2 linked regions of the Homo sapiens genome follow. The protein of the gene in region 1 interacts with the protein of each later gene in a pairwise test. Each region holds a gene or a part of one and is shown on either strand. Other genes may lie near its edges.

Region 1 (3,500 bases):
CACAAAAAAAAGAAAGAAAGAGAGAGAAAGAAAAGAAAGAGAAAGAAAGAAGAAAGAAAAAGGAAGAAAGAGAAAGGAGGAGAAAGAAAGAGAGAGAGAGAGAGAGAAAGAAAGAACTTTCTGAATCAGAATCTGACCAGCAGCAAACAACAACAAAAACAGTTAAGTGCAAAATAGGGAGTACCCCGAAAACAAGAGGGAAAGAGCCTTGATTAGTCAACTTCAAGCTGTCAGTACCCCCCTTCCCCCTCAGAAATCTGAAAGGTCCCAATTAAGTCAGGCCTGCCTGGTTGGTAATTAGAACCAGAAGTGGCCAGGCCACAGGGAGGGGGGTTGGGAGGAGGGCACAGGAGGAGTTGGGGGAGGGCTCCAGGAAGCCATGAGTCCTCAATAGCCCCCGTTTCTCTTCACCAGATGCACCCCACTCATCACCCCATCTGTGTGTGCATCCCAGGCATTGCATGGAGGGGGTCCTTAGGACCAGGCATTACGGTGTCAGGCCCGCCCTCCCCATCAACCCTGACCCCCCCATTCTAGACAGACTTAGTACAGCCTTGGGGAGAAGGTAAGAGGGTGGGGGATCTAGTGCCCCCTCTTTTCCCCAAAGTTTCCCCAGCCCTTATTGCAGCAATTAGACCCATTAGCCTTCTAGCATTTCATGGGAACCAGATGTTCTCCACCATCCTGGTGGGAGTATGAAGGGGGGCTGCTGCCTGACTCACCCCCTTCCCTATGATCCCCACCACCAGGGCATACCCCCCTCCCAGCTAGAGCCCCACAAAGGCATAGCCCTAGAGGCAAAGAGGAGAGTACCCCTTCCCAACTAACAAAGCCATTAGCACTCAGATTCTTTCGGGGTCACCCCTTAGAGTCCCTGCCACCCTGGCAAGGATGAGTTTGGCCAGGACGAGGCAGGGCAGGGACAGCTAACTCCTCATGCACCCTGCCTTTCCCTCCTTGCCACCTTCTGGATGGGGCTTGAGGATAACTGGCTCTGAATTCCTCACGCTAAATTCTCCCTTTTTTCTAAAACCTTCCCTCGAAAAGCTGAAAAGGGGGCATTTCAAAGTAAAGCAGGCCCTGCCAGAAGGGTAAGTCCTGAGGTAGGAGTCCCACCTGAAGGGCAATGGGAGGGGGGTCTCTGGAGGAGGGGGCAGCAGAAGAGCAGAAGAATAGCGAGGTGTGAATGAGAGTGGGGCCCAAAGCAGGGATGTGAGGCGCGTTGGGCAGGATGGGGGCTGGGACCGGGTAGGGGGCCAGGAGAGGGGGGTGCAGCCTGGGCCCTGGCGGCGGCGGCTTGCCCGGCTCCCCCCGCCCCCCCCCCGCCCAAGAGGTTTCCTGTTGCAATCAAAGCCCCGTTTGTGTCGGCCTGGAGCTGGAGCCTGTGCCGGAGGAGGAGAGACCGGGGAGGGGAGGGGAAAAGAGGCAGTCGACTGGGGTTTTTTCCTGGAGGAGGCCTCACTGCCCTTACCCGCCTGCTTGTTCTCCTTGCTTCTCCCAGTGCCTGGCTTCTCTGTGTCTGCACCTTTGGGCCTGGGTAGCTGTCCCTTGTCTTGTCTGTGAGTCTCTCTTTTTCAGTTTCTTTTAAGCAAGACTTTCTCTGTGCCAACCTGTCCTCAGTTTCTCCATGTGTGGTGACTTAGTGTGGTGAAATCTGGGCTCCTTGCCCCAGGGACAGTGGCCCCATGGCCAGGGCAGCATCACCAGGTTCAGAGGACAAATTGGGCTAGGTCATCAGGACCACAGCTATCTGCTCAGGGGTGGGAGGACGGCAAGGCTTCCCTTCTCTTTCATCACACTCTGTTCCCTATAGAAAGCAAATCTAGAACACACTAAGATTCACAAACATAGAGATACATAGGGACACAGACACCTGAGGTTTCATGCACATGCATGAACACACACGCACGCACACACACGTACACACACCCCTCTGCTTTCCATGAGCACAGGCCTGTGCTTGCCTCAGCAGCACGTGCTCCCTGAGCCTCCCCTCCACCACCAGACAGTTCTGAGATGCCTGTCTCACCCCCCTTCAGACCCCGAGACAGCCCCAGGAAGTAGAGCAAGACTTCACTTCTCAACAAGGATGTCCCCAAGGTGCCAGGGACCCAGCAATAAGATCCAAGAGCCAGCCCCAGGGAGAAGTGCCAGACCTCTTCAAGGGCCACCTCTCTTAGTCTATGTGTGAGAGAGAATGTGTGTGTGTCATCCATAGAATAAGGGAGAGGGTGATGAGATGCACAAACTCAATGTGAGTATGCCTTTGGCATCAGATTTAAGCCTCTAAACCCTCTCCACTAGATGCTCCCAGCCAAAAAGGGACAGCAGGTCGGAGAAATGAGAGAGGACACTCTCTCATCCTTCTGCTACTCTCCCACTCTGGAAGGTTTCCCAGACTCCTGGATCTCTTCGTCTCCCCTATGTCTTCCTCTCTGCTACCACTAGGTGCTGCATGCCCCACCCCCATTAAAGCCGCATAGCAACCCACCCCCAAGCCTTCCCCTCCTCCCTCCTCCTGCCACTTCCCTGCCCAGGCCTGTCCTTCCAGGCTAGCCGCACCCTCCCCAGCTACCTGCCCTGGCTCTGGCTCCTCCCTTGGATTTCTCCTTTCAGCCCCCTCCTTCAGCATGGCCTTCGAAGATGGAGCCCGGCCTGACCACTTCCCTACCTTAATCTCACTTTGAACCCTGACCTTGATCTCAGTGTGTCCATGGCACAGGGGCGCAAGGGGGACGTCACTGGGGACTGGGTACTAGCTCTAGCATTATCCCCACTACCATTCTCTCTCCTCTCCCTCTCCACTCCATCTCCTTTACTTGCCTCTCCCAGAACCTGAGAAAATCAAGTCCCAAGAGGCTGAGTTGTAGGGTTCTCTGCCAGAAGTACATTCATGTGGGGAGGGTGGTTCCTTCCCACTTCCCCAGGTCCCTAGGACAGATTCATGGGGTGAAAATGAAGTCTGGGGAAGCCCAGCTGTAGTTTCCAAAAAGGGTACTTTGTGCTGTCTTGTTCACCTACATGCCACTCAAATAACCCCTGTTGGACTACAGACATGCCACCAGCAGGCTTCACCAAACGCCAGCCACAGCGTCAGCAGCACTACAAAATCCCTCCTCACTCCTCACACTGACTCTTTGTTGCACACACTGGAATTCTGTACATGAGCAGAGGCCCAGGGAGATGCTGGGCACACACAACTGCATCAAGTCTGGAGGCACCACACACTCACCCCTTCTCCGATGAACACACTCTTTCCAGTGGAGCTGCCAGCCCAGCCTAGTCACCCCTTTCACATACAGACACACAACCCTCTGCGTGCCCCCTCCTGGAAGCAGGGCGCCTTCTCTTCTACCTCTGTCTCTGCGCTCGTGGAGCCATGAAGGATGTGCGTTTATCTTTTTGTCTTTTTCTCTCCAACTCTGTCTCTGAAATTGCTCTTTCCCCCGCCCTTCAATCACCTTCTCTTGGCCCCAGTTGAAGCCTTCTCTTAACCAGCT
Region 2 (3,500 bases), on another chromosome or scaffold:
CAACAGCTACACGCAGCCATGAGCCAGGCGCCGGTGAAAGAGAACATCCCCTACTCCTGGGCCAGCTTAGCCTGCGTGAAGGCCCACCACTACGCGGCCCTGGCCCACTACTTCACTGCCATCCTCCTCATCGACCACCAGGGTAAGGCCTGGGGGGTTCGGGAGTTTGGCGAGGGCTGTGGTCCAGCTGCCCCAGGGGCGATTCTGAGCTGAGTGAGAGCTAACTGCCTTCCCTGGAGATGCTCACAGGCTGAAGGCAGAGGATGGGAGTGACCCATGACTGAGGCAGCTGCCGCACAGGCCATGGTGGGGTTAGGGGTTATAAGCTTCTTTAGAGGGAGGAAGAAGAGGCACCTTTAATTCTGCCTGGGTGCAAGAGGATGAATTTTCACCTGGAATCTAGAATCTAAGGGAAGGCCAAAAATGCTGGCATCAAGATAAGTAACATTTTAAGGTAATATTTTAAAAGAATCAAAATTAATGCAGGCCAGGTGCTGTGGCTCATGCCTGTAATCTCAGCACTTTGGGAGGCCAAGGCAGGCAGATCATTTGAGGTCAGGAGTTTGAGACCAGCCTGGCCAACATGGTGAAACCCTGTCTCTACTAAAAATACAAAAATTAGCAGGGCATGGCACGTGCCTCTAATCCTAGCTACTCGGGTGACTGAGGCAGGAGAATGGCTTGAGCCAGGGAGGTGGAGGTTGCAGTGAGCCGAGATTGTGCCACTGCACTCCAGCCTGGGTGACAGAGCAAGACTCCATCTCAAAAAAACTAATAATAATAAAATAAAAATTAATGCAAAAAAAATCTGTGATGATCGGAATTTTATTTTATTTTATTATTTTATTTATTTTATTTTATTGTTAGAGATGGGGCTGGAGTGCAGTGGTATGATCATGGCTCACTGCCTTCTTGAACTCCTGGGCTCAAGCGATCCTCCCAATTCAGCCTCCCAAATAGCTGGGAATACAGGCACATGCCACTACACCAGTTAATTAAAAAAAATTTTTTTTTTATAGAGATGGAGTCTCACTATGTTGCCTAAGTTGGTTTCAAACTCTTGGCCTCAAGCAGTTGTCCTGCCTTGGCCTCCCCAAAGTGTTGGGATTACAGGCATGAGCCATGGTGCCTGGCCAGGGATTTTTGATCTAATGAGTACTAATCCAGGCAGCCTCCCAAGGAATTAAAAAGACAGCCTCTGGAGCCAGACTTCCTGGGTTCATATCTCAGCTCTTCCATGAATGAGCTGTTTTACCTTGGGCAAGTTACTTAGCTGTCCTCTGCCTCAATTTTCTCATCTGTAAAATGGGTATATGGAGAGAACCTGCCTCACAGGCTGTCATGAAAACGAAAACGAAGGGCCTGTACGCAAAGCTCAATAATGCTTTATATACTGTAGGTTCTCTGAAAGTGTGAGCCGCCACTCCTAGTACTATATAGTCTATTAGGTGAGACAAGATGTGAAAACAAATAGAAATACCATATAGTGCCTCGGTGATTGCTGTAGAGACACAAATGCAGCAGCAGGTGGACTCCATGGTACAGTCATGGATGGCTTCTTAGAGGCAGTGACATTTGAGTTCAACTTTTCCATCTGCACAGGAGGGAAGGGTCAGCCTAGAGGGAGTAAAGTGTCTGAGCACAGAACAGAGGCGGAGGGTGCTGGGGAAGTGGAGAGTGGTTTTGTGAGGTTTGAGAGCAGGATGCGCGCCACGAAGGGTGTGGTTGAAGCAGGAAGGGGCTCTGCTGCAGGTGTGCAGGCCCGCAGAGGGGTGCAGGCCGGGCATGACAGGGTCTGGGCTATGCCAGGAGGTTCTGTGTGGTGGGTGAGTTGGAGGAGGTAGCGTGTGGGGGCTCAGGGTCAAATTACAAACCTTGCCGGGTGTGGTGGCTCACGCCTATAATCCCAGCACTTTGGGAGGCCGAAATCGGTGTGGATCACGAGGTCAGGACCAGCCTGGCCAAGATGCTGAAACCCCATCTCTACTAAAAATACAAAAATTAGCCGGGCATGGTGGCATGTGCCTGTAATCCCAGCTACTCGGGAGGCTGAGGCAGGAGAATCGCTTGAACCCGGGAGGTGGAGGTTGCAGTGAGCCAAGATCACACCACTGCACCCAAGCCTGGGTGACAGAGCGAAACTCCATCTCAAAAAAAAAAAAAAAAATTATGAACCTCTGGAGTGTGACTGGTCCCAGTGAGCAAGAGCTTTGGGGTAGCCAGGCATAGTGGCTCACACATTTGATCCCAGCACTTTGGGAGGCTAAGGCAGGAGGATCGTTTGAACCCAGGGGTTTGAGACCAGCCTGGGCAATGTAGCAAGACCTTGTCTTTACAAAAAAATTTAAAAATTAGCCTGGCATGTGGTGGTGCATGTCTGTAGTCCTAACTACTCAGGAGGTGAGGTGGGAGGATCACTTGAGCCCAGGAGTTCAAGGCGGCAGTGAACTATGATTGTGCCATTGCACTCCAGCCTGGTAACAGAGTGAGACCGTCTCAAAGAAAAGAAAACCTTGAGGGTTAGACGGCCTGGGGTGTGTCCGGGGGCAGAAAGGAGACCCATGATCCCAAATGCCTTGTGAAACTGCAGAAAAAAGGAAGCTGGAGACATGGTAGAGAAATCTCTACGTGGGTCTGTGGCCAGGTCCATGAGAGGGGATTTAACCTGTGGTTCTCTTTGCAGTGAAGCCAGGCACGGATCTGGACCACCAGGAGAAGTGCCTGTCCCAGCTCTACGACCACATGCCAGAGGGGCTGACACCCTTGGCCACACTGAAGAATGATCAGCAGCGCCGACAGCTGGGTGCGTGTCCCCCTGCACCCAGATGTGGGCCCCACTTGGTGCCCAGCTGGTCCTGCTCACAGCCAGCCACAGAGAGGTCCCTGAAGAGGGCCCGGGAGAGGGGGGTGTTCCGAGTCATCGTGGCCACTTTGGGTTCAGAAGTCATGAGGCGCGGTCCTGAGCCTCAGAGGGCTTCCCAGGCTGTGTTCTCATGGGTTCCATAGCACCCAGGCCTCCCACTGTGGAGCCAGGACTTTAACCATCTCCCTTGGGGTCCACAGGGTGGCATGTGTCACGCTAACAGGGAAGGAGACGTTTGTTGATTTCCTTATGCATGGCTGAATTACCAAGAACACCTAATGACTGGTAATGCAGTGTCCTGGTTTGGTCTCTGCCATGTCTCAGTGTGAATATCTCTTCCCATGTGCAGACCTCACCTCCACCACCCTAACCTGCCCCTCTGCGCACCACCCATGCACACATACGCAGCTTCTCCGTCTCAGTGATGGCAACTCCCACCCCTCTAGGTGCTCAGGCCAGAAACCTTGGACTCACTCTCCACGCTTCTTTTCTTTCCTCCTCTTTCCCATCCCCTCCCCTCTGCTCCCCTCCCCTCTCCTCCCCTCTGTTCCCCTCCCTTCCCCTCCTCTCCTGTTCTCTCCTCTCCTCTTCCCTCCCCTGTTACCCTCCGCTCCCCTTCTCTCTCCTCCTCTCTTCT

The links.
Region 2: the proteins of RARG (region 1) and RHPN2 interact in a two-hybrid assay, tested with the Homo sapiens proteins (one large-scale study listed by BioGRID and IntAct).

What each region holds. Positions count from the first base shown.
Region 1 is NC_000012.12:53,222,210-53,225,709, forward strand, and holds part of RARG (retinoic acid receptor gamma), read right to left. Parts: intron 1-3,500.
Region 2 is NC_000019.10:32,998,889-33,002,388, reverse strand, and holds part of RHPN2 (rhophilin-2), read left to right. Parts: coding exon 1-142; intron 143-2,683; coding exon 2,684-2,803; intron 2,804-3,500. UniProt on the Homo sapiens protein: Binds specifically to GTP-Rho. May function in a Rho pathway to limit stress fiber formation and/or increase the turnover of F-actin structures in the absence of high levels of RhoA activity.